Regions from separate parts of the Homo sapiens genome. Here region 2 is linked to region 1. The links come from fine-mapping of genetic effects on plasma protein levels. A gene starts in region 1. The other region holds a variant in brackets. All regions are shown on one strand. Distances are from middle to middle.

Region 1 (8,524 bases):
GGACAGAGAAAGGAAGAGAGAGAAAAGAGAAGAGAAAAACCAAACACCTTCTTACTCAAAATAAACATGCACATATTACATTCCCAAGCTCATGAAGAAATTGAATGGCAGGGATAAACATTCCCAAGCTTATGAAGAAATTGAATGGCAGGGATAAAAACTAGGGGGGAAAAGCAAAATACAAATTCACTCCAGACAAAAACAATTTCATAGGTCAACCTGACAAAGACTTTTAAAAGAAGAAGACATCATGGCCAAGTAGAGGGTACTCCATACATGGAAGGAGAACCCTTAAGAAACCTATTTATGATTCAAACAAACAGATGAACGGATTAAAAGGGAAAAAAGGATAAGCTGATCTTGACAGACACTCCTAAATATTTAATAATAAACAAGACATTTCTGGTTAAATGAACAAACAAACCCTGGCAAATGAAGCAGTGGCGGAAACGTTGGCATCACTGAAAGTCTGCCAGAAACCAAAGGCGATGACAGAGTCAAGGGGGCACGTTAGTGTCCTCCTGTCAAAGCCTCACACAGGAGGCTCTCACTATTGTCTTTACTTCCAGTGGTCAATGTCCCTCAGATCATCTCTAAATTCAATGCAATCAACATGAAAATTCCAAAAAGGAATTTAATGGGCTTGGCAAACTGATTTTTATTTTTATTTTTGAGTTGGAGTCTCACTCTGTTGCCCAGGCTGGAGTGCAGTGGCGTGATCTCGGCTCACTGCAAACTTTGCCTCCTGGGTTCAAGCAGTTCTCCCACTTCAGCATCCCAAGTAGCTGGGATTACAGGTGCACACCACCAAACCCGGCTAATTTTTCGTATTTTTAGTAGACATGGGGTTTCACCGTGTTGGCCAGGCTGGTCTTGAACGTCCAACTTCAAGGGATCTGCCTGCCTCAGCCTCCCAAAGTGCTGGGATTATAGGCATGAGCCACTGTGCCTGGCCTTGGCAAACTGATTCTAAATTATAACAAACCAGAGATGAGAGACTTGCTCCATTCGTTAGAAAAATAATAAGGAATGTAGTGACAGCCAAATGGAAGAGAAAACAATAAAGAAAATAACGAAGTATGTATAGAAGCCTAGGATGTAATAGGGGCACTTCAAATCATTGAAGAGAGGAGAAATCACACACTCATAATTAGCAATGTTAAGACAATTAGATGGTAATTATTTTTAAAAGTTACTTTACACATTACTCACTTCTCTAAATTCTAGGTGGGCTAAAAATCTCAAAGTCAAAACCAAAATAGTAAAATTATTAAAACTCTTTCTGTAATCTTAGAGGTTTCAAGACACCAAACCAGAAACCATAAAGTAAAAAGAGGTTTACAAGACACCTGTGATCTTAGAGGTTTACAAGACACCAAAATCAGAAACCATAAAGTAAAAAGTAATGACAGGTTTGACTTAACAATGAAAACATTTTTATATGACATAAGACATCTTAAACATGGTAAAGAAAAAGATAAGTCATAACCTGGGAGAATATATTTTCAACATATATAAATGGATTATTAATACACGTAATAAATGAGTCACTCCAAAAGTTAAGATGTAAAAGAGAATTCAACAGGAGATGAACAAAAATTTCTCCACATTCATCATAAATGAAATCCAAAAGGCCAATCCACATATAGAAAATGTACAACTTCACCCATAATCAGGGAAAGAAAAAAATCACGCGACATTGAGAATTTCCATACATAATATTGGACAAAATTAGAAGATTGATAATTTCTCTAAAGGTAAATTGGACCCTTTATGCACTACCTTGGGGACGTCAGCTTAGCTCAGCTACTTTGAGGCTGATTTGACAATACCTATTATAATTTCTAACGCACAACCTCTGCACAGCAATTCTGCATTTAGTAATTTAGGCTACAGAAACACTTTCACAGATGTGGAAAAATTAGAAACAATCTAGGTGTCGATCAACGTGAGATTAGATGAATTGTGGTGTACCCATCCTAATAAATGCCACATATTTCTTAGGGTTACTTAACGAGTTAAATCTGTATGTATTATTGTAGAAATTTGGAAATATTCCAAAATACAATATTAAGTGAAAAAATTAGGAATATATATATATATATATAAATAAAATAATCCCATTTCTGTAAAAAGAAAAACTACCATCCTGGCACAGTGGCTCAAGCCTGTAATCCCAGCATTTTGGGAGGCTGAGACAGGCGGATCATCTGAGGTCAGGAGTTCGAGACCAGCCTGGCCAATATGGTGAAACCCTGTCTCTACTAAAAATACAAAAATTAGCCACGTGTGGTGGCTCATGCCTGTAATCCCGGCTACTCAGGAGGCTGAGGCAGGAGAATCACCTGAACCCGGGAGGCAGAGGTTGCAGTGAGCCAAGATTGCACCACTGCATTCCAGCCTGGGCGACAAGAGTAAAACTCTGTCACAAAAACAAAACAAAACAAAACAAAAAACAAACAGGAAAAGAAAAACTATATGCTTGTATCATGCTTAGAAAATGTTCTGGAAGAATACATGTGGTGAAAAGAATAAGCTATGGAACTAGGGAAAAGAAATTGCTGGGGACTTTGTCTCTTGTGCTACATAATTCTAGATTATTCTAATTTTCATGAAGGTAGGTTTCTGTGTAGTTGCTTGTTTAGCATTAAATACATTCCTTATACAACTCATGAATTATCCTGTGGTGTTGGTATATCTGTATACTGGAACAATATAAATAAAACTGCTGGATGAAAAAAAGAGTGACCAAAAGCTAATAGGAAATGTTTACTCATTATAAAATGATTACAAAGCAGGAAAGATGATAGAAAAAAATTAGAATTGGGCTGTACAAAAATATAACAGCAGGGTTTTTGAAGACTAAAAATTGCACATATGCAGCTTGTCGCTAGCACCTGTCTGACAAGGTCCCAGTGAAACACCTGCCCTTTCATTCTCAGGGCCAGTACACACACCTGCACACACCCTGAAGCAGGCACCCCAGATACCCACCCACCCAGCCAGCATACTTGGGTACAGAACACACACACCTGGGCCCCAACCCAAATCAGCAACCCAAATCAGCAGGGCAGAGTGTCATAACTAAAAAGACAGACAGACAGAGAGAGAGACTGAGAGAGAGAGAGAGAGAGAGAGAGATTGCTGGATAGTGCCTGGTATGTCTCTGGGCAAAGTGCTGGGCTCTTTCTCAAGTTCAAAGTGAGCTTCTCAAGCCACACCGCACCCAGCTCTGGGCCTCAGCGCAGCAAGCTTCCAGGTTTCACCCTCTGCCTCTTAGTCTCTCTGCACTCCTGCATCCCCAGACATCCGCACATGCACATACACACACAGGCACACACACAAATGCACACACGGGCAAACACACGAGCATGCGTTCTCTCTCTTTCTAAACCAAGATGTCAGGGACTATCCATGCTCCCCATTCCACAGATGAGGAGACAGAAGCCCAGGGTGGACAGGGGGTGCTCTCACTACCACCAGCATCTTAGTGACAAAGCGAAGACAGACTATAGGTGCCTGACTCCCAGGCCTGAGCTCTCTTCACCCCACTAGGCGTCCTTCCCACCAGGACCAACCAGATCCCGCTAGCGAGGCTGAGTCCTCCCCAGAGCTCTCCTACAACACCCAAGCAGCTTGGCACCCCTGGCTGCCTCCCCATCCACTGGCCGCCCTAGGAGTCTGGGCTCAGGTCATCCTAAGAGGCCAAGCCCTAACTCCTCCAAGTCCCCAGGGCACAGCTACCCACAGGACGCCCCCCAGGCTCCCCCTGTCCTTTTTCATCCTGGACTCCCCACATTCCCCCCTGCTCTGACCCCACCCCTCAGCCCTGCTCCTGGACGCCGGGCCATACCTCTGTGTGGTGGGAGAGACCAGTCTTCTTCTGGAGCCTCTAGGCAGAGTGAGCCTCCCACGTTTCCTATTTATGTTGATGTCATCAGGAAACAGAGAAGCAGAAAGAGGAAGCAGTGCCGGCCCAGGCCTACTTTGCTAATAGTGCACGTGACTTTTCTTACTTCCAGAAAGCCTCCTACTCCAATTTACCTTCCTATAAACTCCTAGGCCTCCTTCAAGCCTCAGCTGACGCAGGGCCTCCTCCATGCAGCCTTCCCTGACTGCTTGATGGGGATGCAGGTGGAAGTGGCTGCAATAACCATAGCTGGTTTGAGCCCAGAGCCAGACAGATCTGTGTTGGACTTCCAAGTCCACTGCTTCTTAAAGCGTGTCCTTGTGCAAATCATCTGCGTGTTACTTCCCCAAGCCTCGGGACATCCATCTGTCTGTTACTTTTGCAGAAGCATCTACAAACCTGGAAGGACTGTTGAGGGAATCCAGTGAGATTCTGTGCAGGAAGACCTTAGCTCAGAGCTGGCCACAGGAGAACCCCCTACAAGTGGTAGCTGGTGGCATGTTGATTTCCCCGATGTCCTCTTTGCCCTGCCGCCCCACCCCACCATGTGTCATATGGTCATGTGTGTTCATGGCTGTCTTTCTTCTGACACTATCTTCAGTGCTGGCTTGTGTCCGGCTTGCACTTCCCTCCCAAATACCTAGCACATGGCCTGGTACAGAGGAGAAATTGCACCTTTGACTGTGTGCAAATGAATAGATGAATGAATGAATGAATGAATGAATGAATGAATGAATGAGTGGCTCCCTGAGCACAGCAGGGCCAGCAGAATTAAGGTCAGGTGAGTGAGGCAGTCTCTCGTGCTCAAAATTTAAACAGGCATTTAAAAATTCAGTAATTGTTGTAAGTAATATTTTAATGCAATATGGTTTAAAAAAATCCCAACTGATGCAGAAACTATTCACGGTGAACCAAATATGAAAAGTTTGAATAAAGACAAGATGAATCACAGTGCCAAGACACAACAAAACGCAGTCATATTTCTCCTACATGGGGCTGCCTCCCAGGAGAAAGGGCAGCAGGCAGGAATGAGGGGAATGGAGGGCAAGAATGAGGGGAATGGAGGAAATGGAGGGGCAGGAACCTGCCTCGAAGCCACTGGAATTCTGGCCTGATTGTTGTTCTTTGCTTTCCTCCTACCAGGAAGGGCAGGGTTGGCCAGGAAGAGCTGGCAGGGCCTCACCCTAGCAGAGAAAGCCCAGGGTAGAGGAAGGCATGTGTGGTTCTCTCAGGCACTCCGGTCAGTGTGAGGTCCCTGCCTGGCATGGAAAAACCCTGCAGGGGCTTCTCCAGGGCTGGAGAGGATGGAATTAAAGTGACGTCCCGGGCTCTCTTTTCTCCCAGGTGTCCCCACTCTGCCTGTCTTTGCTGAGGTCCTCTGTGGGACTGGGAGGCTGCGGGCCTGGATGCCCTCAGGAGCACAGAGGATGCTGTCTGGTGGAGAAACGAAGAACCCGAGACTCTGAGTCAAAATCACTCCGGACACCAGACCCAAAATGTGAAGGAGCTTTAGGAACACCTCAGCCAATTCACTTGACTGACCCTTTCCTTTTAAAAGTCATCATAGAGCAGCAGGGGATAAAAATCTACATTTGAATGAGTCTAACAGAGTTCTCTCAATAAGTATTAAAAGTTCTAAGCGAGAAGAATCACACCGTCAGGAATTCATTGAATGTTTTCGTTTGTTTGTTTGTTTTTTCCTTCAGTGGTATGTAAAATACCGTGTCTTGCAATTGACGATCTTTTAGAGACTAAGAAACCCAAGAAAATGTTGGCAAGAACGTAGTACTCATAATGACCAGGGCTTGAGCATTTACGCTGTGAGCAGACCTTCGGCTGGGGGCTTCTCCATCTCTTCCCAATAACCTTTATGTAGCTGTTACTGTCTTCACCTTACAGATGAAGAAATTGAGGCATGAAAAGGAAGATAACTTGTTGAAAGTAGTAACTCGTATATGTTAACATTGCATTTTTTTCCATTTCCATTTTTATTCTGAAACTATTTCAAAATACAGAGCGTTAAAGGAATGATACAAAGAACTCTCACATACCCTTCATGTGGAAACCCCCTTTGAGTTTCGCTAAGCTTCTCAATAATGGTTTTGTAACAAGAAAATCCATCCGGGACTTTGCATTCTCTCTAAATGCATGGCTCTTAGTTGCCATGTCTTTCGGGCCTCCAGTTTGAAACAGATGCCTTGTTTTTTCCTCGACATCTCGAAGACTGCAGGTTGGTTGTTTTGAATAATGTCCCTCGATTTGGCTCTGTCTGATGATTAGAACTGGGTTATGCTTTTTTGGCCAAAATAGCACAGAAGTGATGCTGGATTATTCTTGGTGAGTCCTATTAGCTTTCATTGTCAATCTGTCCCATCACTAATGTCGTTCGCTCTGATCATTTGATTAACTTGACACCAATCAAGTTTCTCTATTGTAAAGTTACTTCCCCTTCCACATCGTAATTTATAAGCATTTGGTAGGGAGATACTTTTAAGCTTTCTCATCCCACTCCCACACTTGTATAATTTCAGTATGCAATGATGTTCCTTAATTTAATTAAACATTATCATGATGATCATTGCCAAATGGTGACTTTTAAAAATTCTGTCATTCAGAAGTCCTAGCCAGAGCAATCTAACAAGAGAAAGAAATAAAAGACATCCAAATAGGAAAAGAAGAAGTCAAACTTTCTCTCTTCCTTGATGATATGATTTTATACCTAGAAAACCCTAAAGACTCCACCAAAAGTCCCCGGGAACTGATGAACAACTTCTATAAAGTTGGAAACAAAATCAATGTGCACAAATCAGTAGTATTTCTGTGCACCAATAAAGTTCAAGCTGAGAGCCAAATCAAGAATGCAATCCCATTTGCAATAGTCACACACACACACACACAAATAAAATACTTAGGAATGCAGCTAAGCAAGGTCATAAAAGATCTCTACAAGGAGAACCACAAAGCACTGGTAAAAGACATCATAGATGACACAAACAATTGGAAAAACATTCCATGCTCATGGATTGGAAGAATCAGTATCATTACAATGGCCATACACCCAAAGCATTCCACAAACTCAATGCTATTCCTGTCAAACTACCACTGTCATTTTTCACAGAATTAGAAAAAACTATTCTAAAATTCATATGGAACCAAAAAAAAGCTCGAATAGCCAAAACAATCCTGAGCCAAAAGAACAAAGCCTGAGGCATCACATTACACAAATTAAAACTATACTAAGGCTACAATAATCGAAGCAGCATAGCACTGGTATAAAAACAGACACATAGACCAATGGAACACAGAAATAAAGCTGAATACCCGCAGCCATCTGATCTTCAACAAAGCTGACAGAAATAAGCAATGGGGGAAGCACTCCCTATTCAATAAATGGTGATACGATAGCTGGCCAGCCATACACAAAAGAATGAAACTGGACCCTTACCTTTCACCATATACAAAAATTAACTCAAGATGGATTAAAAGTTTAAATGTAGGACCTCAAATTATAAGAATCCTAGAAGAAAACCTAGGAAGCACCACTCTAGACATCATTCTTGGGGAAAAATTTATGACTAAGTTCTTAAAAGCAATTGCAATATAAACAAAAATTGACAAGTGGGTCCTAAGTAAACTAAAAAGCTTCTGCACAGCAAAGGACACTATCAACAGAGTAAACAGACAACCTACAGAATGGGAGAAAATATTCGCACACTGCATGCAGCAAGGGTCTAATATTCAGAATCTGTACAGAACTTAGGCAATTCAGCAAGCAAAAAATAAAATAAAATAAAATAACCCCAATAAAAAGTGGGCAAAAGAAATGAACAGACACTTCTCCAAAGAAGACATACAAGCAGCCAACAGATATGAAAAATGCTCAATATCACTAATCATCAGAGAGATGCAAATCAAAACCACAATGAGATGCTATCTCACATCAGTTGGAATGACTATTATTAAAAAGTCATAAAACAATAGACGCTGGTGAGGCAGCAGAGAAAAGCAAATGCTTATATGCTATTGATAGGAATGTAAATTAGTTCAGCCATTGTGGAAAGCAGTTTGGAGATTTCTTAAAAAACTTAAAGCAGAACAACCATTTGACCCAGCAATCCCATTACTGAGTATATATCCAAAAAGACACCTGTGCTCGTATGTTCATTGCGGCACTATTCACAATAGCAAAGACATGGAATCAACCTGGTTGCCCGTTAACAGTGGACTGGATAAAGGAAATGCGGTATATATACACCCACGGAATACTACACAGCCATAAAAAGAATGAAATATGTCCTTTGCAGCAGCATAGATGCAGCTGGAAGCCATTATCCTAAGCAAATTAATGCAGGAACAGAAAACCAAATACTGTATATTTTCACTTATAAGTGGGAGCTAAACATTGGGTGCTAATGGGCATAAAGATGGCAACAATAGACACAGGGAACTACTTAGAGGGGTGAGGCAGAGAGGCAAGGATTGAAGAACTAACTACCCGGGTACTACACTTACCATGTGGTTTGGGATATGAATTATCATTTTTCACAGAATTAGAAAAAACTATTCTAAAATGCTAAAGTATTATGAGATAACAAAGGGGCACGTACACCCCCT
Region 2 (8,000 bases), 13 kb before region 1:
GGAGACCGAGCTGGCCACCTCCTTCCTCACCTCCCAGGAGCAGCTGAGCACGGCGGCCCCGTCAAAGAAGCACTCCAGGTTCTGGGGCTGGGCCTCATCCCCTGGGTTGGAGACAGGTCCTCATGTACTCCGTCATTCATCCCTCCCATAGCTCTCAGTGGGTGCCCACCGTGTGATTCATCACACAGAGGTCATGAGCTCTGGGGCCAAAAGACCAGGGCTGAAACTTCAGCCTGAACCTGCCAGCTGTGTGTCCAACAGCTCCGAGAGAGAGAGAGAGAGTTCTGTGCACCTGCACGCCCTCCCGGGAGAATGGAAATAGTATCTAAGTTTCAGTGTTTGGGGATTGAACTGAAAAATGTGGGTAAGCCCTGAGCATCCTGTAGCCTCCATTAACACACAGCTGCTAATAGCACTGTTGTTGTTATTATTGTAATTGCCATTGGCAGAGAACGTGCAGAAAACTGGAAACCCAAAGTGAACAGATGCAGAGTCCTACTGGTCAGTGGTCACAGTAGAGGTGGGACGGCCCAGGGACGCTACTGGAAAGATGGCAGCAGGAGATCTGGGAAGCCCCCAGGTGGAGCCCAGGAACCCTGCTGTGCCAGGAGCTCCTGATGAGCCTGCCCTCCCACCACGGGGCATTTCCTGGGCTCTGGCAACATTACCTGGCTGGGAGTCCCAGCAAACCTCTGGGCTCCACTTGCTGGGACGTCCTGAGAGCCGAGAACCTGGGGCCAGGCGGGTCCGTACTCGGGCCACGTAGGTGCTGCTGGGCATGAGGTGCTCTGGCCCCAGGGTGGCCTGGGAGGTGTTGGAGAGGAGGATGGCTGCGTCCTGTCAGGAGACAGTGGGTGCTGGAGGAGGGGTGCTGCCCATCCCTTCGGGCTGGGGCAGAGCTGGCCGTGGTTCCTACCTCCCAAGAGTCCTGAAGCCGCTTGTAGACCACCTCAAACTCCAGATCCCCTGGGGACAACCAGTGGCTCTGGGGACTCCCAAGGGCCACACTCCAGGTCAGCAGGAAGTGGTCCTGGTCGGTGCTGATCTGCAGGTCCCTGGGCTCAGGAGGCTGGACTGGAGGGGAGGAAGTGAAGGGCACCTAAGGGCTGGACCGCTGGGGGGCAGTCAGGGCCTGCATGGCCTTTTGTGTGGACACAGGGGGTTCCAGGCCACCCCTGCCCCCAGCAGCTGAGGGACCTTGAGCAAGACCCGTCTCCTCTGTGAGCCTCAGCCCTTCATCTGCAAAACTGTAGGGTTTCAACATGAAAGCAATGGAAAGCCGTGCAGATTGCAATGCGCACGTGACCCGAACTCCATAAAAAGCGCTGGCGAGGAAACTCATTGGAGCCTCCTCTGTCCTGAGGCTCCCCACTGCCCACGCTGCGGCCTGGGTGGCTCCTGCTAGCAGAGGGGCCTGCGGTTCAGCGGCCTCCCCCCTCCTGCTGTCCAAGCTCCCTTCCTCCTGCCCAGGGTCCTTCCTGTTGTCAGTGCCCCGGGCAAATGCCTCCGGCTCTAGGAACATCCTCGGATCTGCATCTCCAGGCGGAATCCCTCATTCCTTCTCTCATTTCACCATAGCTCAGTGGAATTCCCTCCACCAGGGCCTTACCACAGCTGAGGGATTCCTATGCTTCTGTGTCTGCCTCCCCTAAGGTGTGAGGAGATGGGGGTGGGTGGGATTGGTCCTGACCCCCTTCCCTACCTCCAGGCTGAGATGCGGCTTCTCAGTGAATTATGGGGCAAGGTGAATGAGTGAATGAATGAACAAATACGCGTAAGCAACTTTGGGGCTTCTCATGAAATCCTTGCAGCCACAAGGCAAGCATCTATCTCCTGGGAACTCTGGGTTGTTCAAGAAAATGCAGAATGAAGACACGGCACCTGATTTCTGGTTTCTGGTGTCTGCTTGCTGAGGGATGGCTTTCAAACGAAAACATCCTCACACATAGGATGTAAGTGCTCTCTGCTGGACATGGGTTATGGCATGCTAGAGCATGTCAGGAACCATCAACCCAGAACGGCAGACACACAGCAGGGGAACCGCCCCTCCTCACCCACAGCCAGGACAGGCGTCCCTCATGGGTCACTGCACTCCCAGCCCCCGAGGCTGTCATGGAGGGGGAGCTCTTCCCGGCAGAGCCCTCTCGGAAGCTGCCACAAACTGCGCAGACTGGGAGCCCCATCAGAAACCTGCTCAGCCAACTCAAGAGAAACCTCTTGAGTCCACCAGCTCATTTCACAGACGGAGAAACTCATAGAGGAAGTAAAATGTCCAAGGTCTCCAAACATGGAGACTCAGAGCAGATCAGATGCATGCCTGTCGCCTGCCCAGTACCTCCCAGCATCCTTGATTCATTGCTAATCTGCATTAGGCTGGACCCTACCTCGCTACTCAACACAGGCTCCAGGAGGCCAAGGGCCACACTTCTCTCCCTATATCTAAGTTGTCTCCATCGCCTTAGAAACCTTCCTTGTTTCCAGGCTGTAAGCTCCAAGGGCAGGGTTGCTGGCTGGTTTGTTGACTGCTTCGTTGGCTTATGTAGGCGCTCAAGGAAAGAAGGTTGAATGAATGAATTGTGTGTATATCTGAACTATGATTTGCATGCCCTCATGTCCCCATCTCCTAGCCAGTTGTGTCCTCATCATTTCTAGGAATGAGTGCTTTAGGCCACAGCCTGAATTTCAACTTCTTTCCCAACTAATGCTCCTCCAATCTACCCTGTAAGTCCCCTGTCCCCAGCATTCTCACATCCACATCTGATCATGTCATTTCCCCTCAGTGCTCTCCATGCCTAGAGGGTCCCCTCTACCTGAGACTGCAGGAGACAGAAGCCTCTCCAGGGACAGGTCCTTACCTGTGTCTCCTGCTTCTTCCCACCGCTGTCCAGCCCTTGAAGCTGATGCTCCCTGGACACAATGGTGAGCAGGTTCCCCAGCTGCCCATGCCCTTCTGATCCCCCAGCCTCTGCACAGCTGTTACCCTGCCAGAGAGGCTCTTACTGCCCTCCCCTCCTGTCTACCCTTCAGATCTGAGTTGCAAAGCTCTTCCCTCTGGGAAGCCTGTTCTGATCTCCCAGGGGCCCTGCCCTTTACCCCCTGCATGAGGCACCCACCCGCCACTGTCAGTAAGTTCTCACGGTGGACGGCATACAGTGTTTCCCCTCCCTCCAGCCTGGGCCCCCTGAGCTC[C/T]ATTCGGGAAGGAAGGGACTCTCGTGTCCATCAAACCCATGTGTGGAAATGTTGCTTCTGATGGACTCCTGGTGGCCTAACTGATCCCCTCCTCTGGCAGTGGCTTTATGATGTTGTGGCAAAAAAGGGCAGGAAGCCATGGTCAGAGCCCCTTCCGTGTGACCCTTGCAAAGAGCACCAGGTGGTTCGGTGGTTAGGACCGGGGACTCAGACCATCCTGCACTGGATCTCAGCTCTGCCAGCAGCAGTAGAGAGGCCTTGGACTAGTCACCTCCCTCTGTCTCCGTTTCAGCAGCAGCCAAAGGCACCAATAACAGCACCAAGCCTGCCGTGGTTCTGAGACTCCCAATGACAGCCTGCAGTACCTCCTACCAGCCTGCCACCAGCATGGGTTTTTGCCACGTCAACGAAAACTTTCATAAAACGTGTCCCTTTTCAGGTTTAGCTTCATTCTAAGCAACCATTTCCTTGAATCCAGGACTTCGAAGTGCAGGTTATATTTCTTTCTAATATAGAGGCAAATAAAACCTAACTACATAAAATAATCATCTACCCCACCCTAGACCACAGATGGCTTCATGGACCACTGTGGGATTTCGGCCCACACCGGGGCCCCTCCTCCAGGGCAGCGAGGAGACAAGCTCCCTGTCTACCATGCAGGAAGCCCCCGGGAAGGCTGACCCCATCTCTGTCATTACTGCTCAGCTGTGGGACTTCAGAGGAGGCATCTGACCTCCTGGGCCTCAAGGGCCACATCCAGGAAATGGGTTGCTTCAGAGATGAGATGAAACAACTAAGCGGACAGAGTTTTCTAACTTGGTAGGTTTCTAAGTGAGTGGTGAGAACGGTTTTCTTCAAGACAAGCCTGCAGTGCTGGAAGCCCATGGCTTAGTGGGAGGTGGTAGCAGCCAGGGGCACAGGAGAAGCCTTTGTCAGGGGCCCCTCTGCTCTGAAGTCTCCATGTAACCAGACCATACCCTCATCCCTCAAGAAACCCTCACCCAACCCCAAGCCACAGCCTTCTGCCTTGAAGACTCCCTGGACCACCCCTGGTGCCCCCGCTGTCCACACAGGAAACCAAGCCCCGGGCAGGGCCCCCAGCCCCTCACCATGCTGGGTCAGAGTGACGGTGAGCCGGGTGCCCAGAGGCCTGTCTGGTTGGAATGAGAAGTAGTCAACGTCAGTGACGACAAAACTCTGGCAGGGAATGACACATCTCCTGGGCACGCAGCGGGGATGGGGGCAGGCTGACCAGGGCATGTCATCACTGAGGTCACAGGACACTGGCTCCAGGAGGTCCCTGTTGGGAGAGGACACGGCTTAGCCCAGGGTGTATGGGTATCACTGACTCACGAAAGGTTCCTCGAGTGCTCACCACATGCCTGGCTCTGTTCAGAATCAGGGGCCAGCAGTGATAAAACACACAAAAATCCTGCCCACGGAGCTGCCATCCTGGGAGAAGGGGACCCGCATGGAACAAAGTGTGTAGCGTGTGCAGTGGAGAGAACTTCATGTGGAAAAATAAAGCAAGAAGCAGGTGAGGAGGGAGGAAGGGCTGGGCCAGGGAGGCAATTTGAAATATGGGACAAGCAGGCTTCTCTAAGGAGGTGACCTGGGGGCAGAATGTTAAAGGCATTGAGGGAGGGACTGTGCAAATTGTGAGGATTTCAGGAAATGGGAACAGCACGTGCAAAGGCCCTGGGACAGGCAGAGTTTGGTGTGCTGCGTGGCTTGGCCTAAAACCAGTGCGCAGGGAGTAGAGCGTGTGATAGGGAGGTCTAGGAGACCCATCCATCTACATGATGGGATTGGATCTCACTGCGAGTGAGTGGGAAACAGTCATGAGCAGAGGTGTTGTAGATTTTGATAAATGCTTTGAAAGGATTCCTGAGGGTCCTCGGTTGCGAATAGACTGAGGTGGGAATGTGGCAATGTTGGAAGCAGGGAGCCCAGTTACGAGGCTTCTGGAATATTCAGGTGACAGGAAGTGGCGTGCAACAGGGTGGTCAGGCTGGCGTGGGTGAGATTCATGTTCTGCTTGAGATAAGGTTGGCAGCATTTGCTGGTGGAGGGATGTAGCAGTCAGGAAGGAATGGTGACAAAAGAGACTTAAAAACAAAACAAAATCCTCCCTGTTGTTTAGTTTGAGCCACTAGGAGCTCCCATTTAGAAAGGGAGATGGGGAAGACAGAGGCAGCAGCGCAGCTCGGGTGAGAGCGGGACTTTGGTTGAGGACGTTTGGAGTCGGAGACACCTGTTGTCTAAGTGACAGGTGGAGAGGCCAGTACGCCTGGAGGGCTGGAGCTTAGGGGAATTGTGGGCTTGAGGTCACCTTTGGGAGATGCCCCAGGGGCCTGAGGGGGTCTCTGCAGAGTGGATACAGCAGAGAGGAGGTCCATGGACTGGGCCTGGGTGTCTTGCCATCAGGAGGCAGCAGACAAGGAGAAAGAGGAGGATGGGCAGGGCCCCGGGGGCACTGGGTGAGCTGTGGGCAGAGTCAGGTGCAAGAGAAACTGCAGGGAGGCCGCGGTGGTCCTCCTTGTCAGGGGCTGCCCCTGGTCAAGTAGGAAGAAGGCGGAGGCCCAACCATGAGATCCTGCTCCCTGGGACATTTGCTGACTTGGACCAGAGCAGTTTGGGTGGCCTGGTGGGGGCAGCATCCTAGGGGAGTGGGCCCAGGAGGAAATGGCTGGAAAGACACTGGACGTGGTGAATGTGGACAACTCTTTAGGGAATGCTGCTGTCAAAGGAAGCAGAGAAAGAGGGGCCGCAGGGTTGCCAGGTCAGGAGATGCCCAGGCGCTGCACTCCTGTGGGCATCTGAGAGGGGGTTGGGGCAGGTTTGCAAGGCAATTGGGAAAGATCCTGGGAGAGGGCATGGTGGGTGGCACAGGGCAGAGTGGGGACTTGGGGGCCGTGATGTTCCTGAGCAACAGGACCAGACAGCATCGTGTCTCAGGCCTCAGACAGGAGCCCTGGTCCAGGCCCAGGCCCCGGCGGTGGGCAAAGGGGGTGGGGAGTGTGAGTGTGGGGTGGGTGGGGAGCTTCTCCCTGGTCCCCTGTTGTGTCAGAGCAGCAGGAAGCAGGTCACAGGGAGGGGCAGGATGGTCTTTGAGGAGAATGGAGAAGGTCCGACAGAGACGCCCTGGAGAACTGAAGGCGGTGGAGGGGTGGGGGTGGCAGAGCCGGCCCCGCCCCCCAACGCTGGGGTGACCTCCAATGGGTTGTCATCTGCCTCTCTGGTTCCAGCTATTTAATTACTTAATTTATGGCTGATTTAGACCCTGGCCAACACCCCAGAGCGATTCTGGTCCCCTTCCCTTGTGGCACGTGCCCAGGAGAGCTTGGGTGGGAGAGGTGGCAGCCCACATACGGAGGGGGGGCCTGGGAGAGCGCGGAGCCCCCTCCCAGACACGTCCACACAGCTTGCTCTGCCACTGTCTACCCCGTGGCCAGGGCTGGCACCTCACCTCCAGGGCCTCAGTTTTCCCATCTGTGAACTCCCAGGCTAGCGCCATCTCTCCTTGGTCTACTCTGGACAGGCAGGCAGTGGCACAGCTGGGGCTTCGTGGCCTGGCCCTGCCCACCTCACAGTGAGGAGGAACTAAGATAGGTCATGTGGGGCAATTGTGTTAAATTGTGATGAAACAAGAGAAGATTTTCACCATTGCCACCACCACCATTGTCACCAACATCAGTGTAGGAGGCACTCCGCAGAAACCCCAGGTCAGACGGCAGCACCCGGCCTCGCAGGTGCCTGGCGGAGCAGGAGCTCTTGCAGGGCCTCCCTCCTCCTCTGTCCTCTGTCCACTCCCACCCCGAGGCTGACCTGACAGGTCCCTCTCTACACTGTCGCCCCATGCCAGGCACAGGGGACGTCGTAGCCCCTGCCCGTGGCCCCTGCCCCCAGCATCACTCACTCATTCACCCGGCGAATGAGGGTCACGTTGACGAGCCGCTGGGCATCCTGGGTGTCTGCCCACCTGCAGGTGATGTGGCTGGTGTAGTCGTTGTAGCAGCGCAGGGTCTGCAGCGGGATGGTTTCTGACAAGAGGGGTAGAAGGGGGTCACCTCTCTTTCCTGCAGGGACCCTTGTCACCATCACCCCCAGCTGCTTTGGGATGTCCCGCTCTGGGGAGGGGTCTCCCAGGTCCCTGCAGAGGCACCAGGTGGCCAGGCACATGTACATGTGTTCATGTCTGCCGGGGTGGGCTCCTGGTTGCGGACCCTCCTCTCCTGGCAGAAGCAAGACATTCTGTTGGTTCTCAGCATGGTTTCTGGGCCTCCGCAGTGTGCTGTTCCTGGGCACGGTCCCCTCCCCCCACCCCAGGACAGGGACATGCATCAAGCACAGGCCTGGCCCCTGGACCGACTGTGCAGCCTGGGAGGGGGCACACACTCAGCCCTGGGATGCAGCGTGGCAGAGTTCTACCCTGCAACCTCCCACCTCCTCTCTAGTCCCCGTCCTCAGGAGCCTGGTATTTGTTAAGGGGACTGTGGTCCCAGCATTATCACAGAAGCCAGGTCTCTGGGAGCCCTTGGGAGGGGCCATTTCACCTCAAGAGCCCAGGAGCATCCCAGTGCGGGCTTCAGGCACAAGGAGGGTGCTAGCGGCTGAAGCAGGGAGAGAACCCCAGCCAAGGCCCTGCAGGAGCAAAGTCCCGGAGGTGGGAACCACTGAGGCACAGAGAGTGTCTGCTGGGGAAGGAGGGGCAGGGAAACGGCCAGAGCAGCCATCCTGGAGCCTAGGGGCCGGGAGTGCCGCCCTGAGAAATGTGGGCAAGGAAGCCAGACACGCTCAGCTGGACTTTC

Direction of the effects. Alleles are on the strand shown, and positions count from the first base shown. The strength of an association depends on the size of the effect and on how common the allele is.
As copies of C replace T in region 2, the plasma level of the protein whose gene starts at base 3,903 in region 1 goes down (moderate association).

The links. A credible set is the group of variants that fine-mapping cannot tell apart. PIP is the chance, under the fine-mapping model, that this variant and not a neighbour inherited with it causes the effect. Protein levels are from antibody-based Olink assays in UK Biobank. Linkage for the fine-mapping came from a reference panel and not from the study's own genotypes, which makes the PIPs less certain.
Region 2: its variant is the best candidate, but not a certain one, in a credible set for the plasma level of the CSF2RB protein (UK Biobank, PIP 0.56).

Annotation. Positions count from the first base shown.
Region 1 is chr22:36,909,007-36,917,530 of GRCh38, reverse strand. It overlaps CSF2RB (colony stimulating factor 2 receptor subunit beta), which reads right to left and starts at 3,903. Exons shown (of 14, transcript NM_000395.3): 1 at 3,854-3,903. RefSeq lists an enhancer at 5,369-6,070.
Region 2 is chr22:36,922,476-36,930,475 of GRCh38, reverse strand. CSF2RB (colony stimulating factor 2 receptor subunit beta) reads right to left here. Exons shown (of 14, transcript NM_000395.3): 3 at 7,109-7,232; 4 at 4,299-4,489; 5 at 917-1,074; 6 at 669-837; 7 at 1-101. It overlaps LOC105373023 (a long non-coding RNA gene), which reads left to right and starts at 4,533. Exons shown (of 2, transcript XR_938230.2): 1 at 4,533-4,726. RefSeq lists enhancers at 3,773-4,972, 7,618-8,000. The variant C/T (reference allele first, on the strand shown) is at 3,190.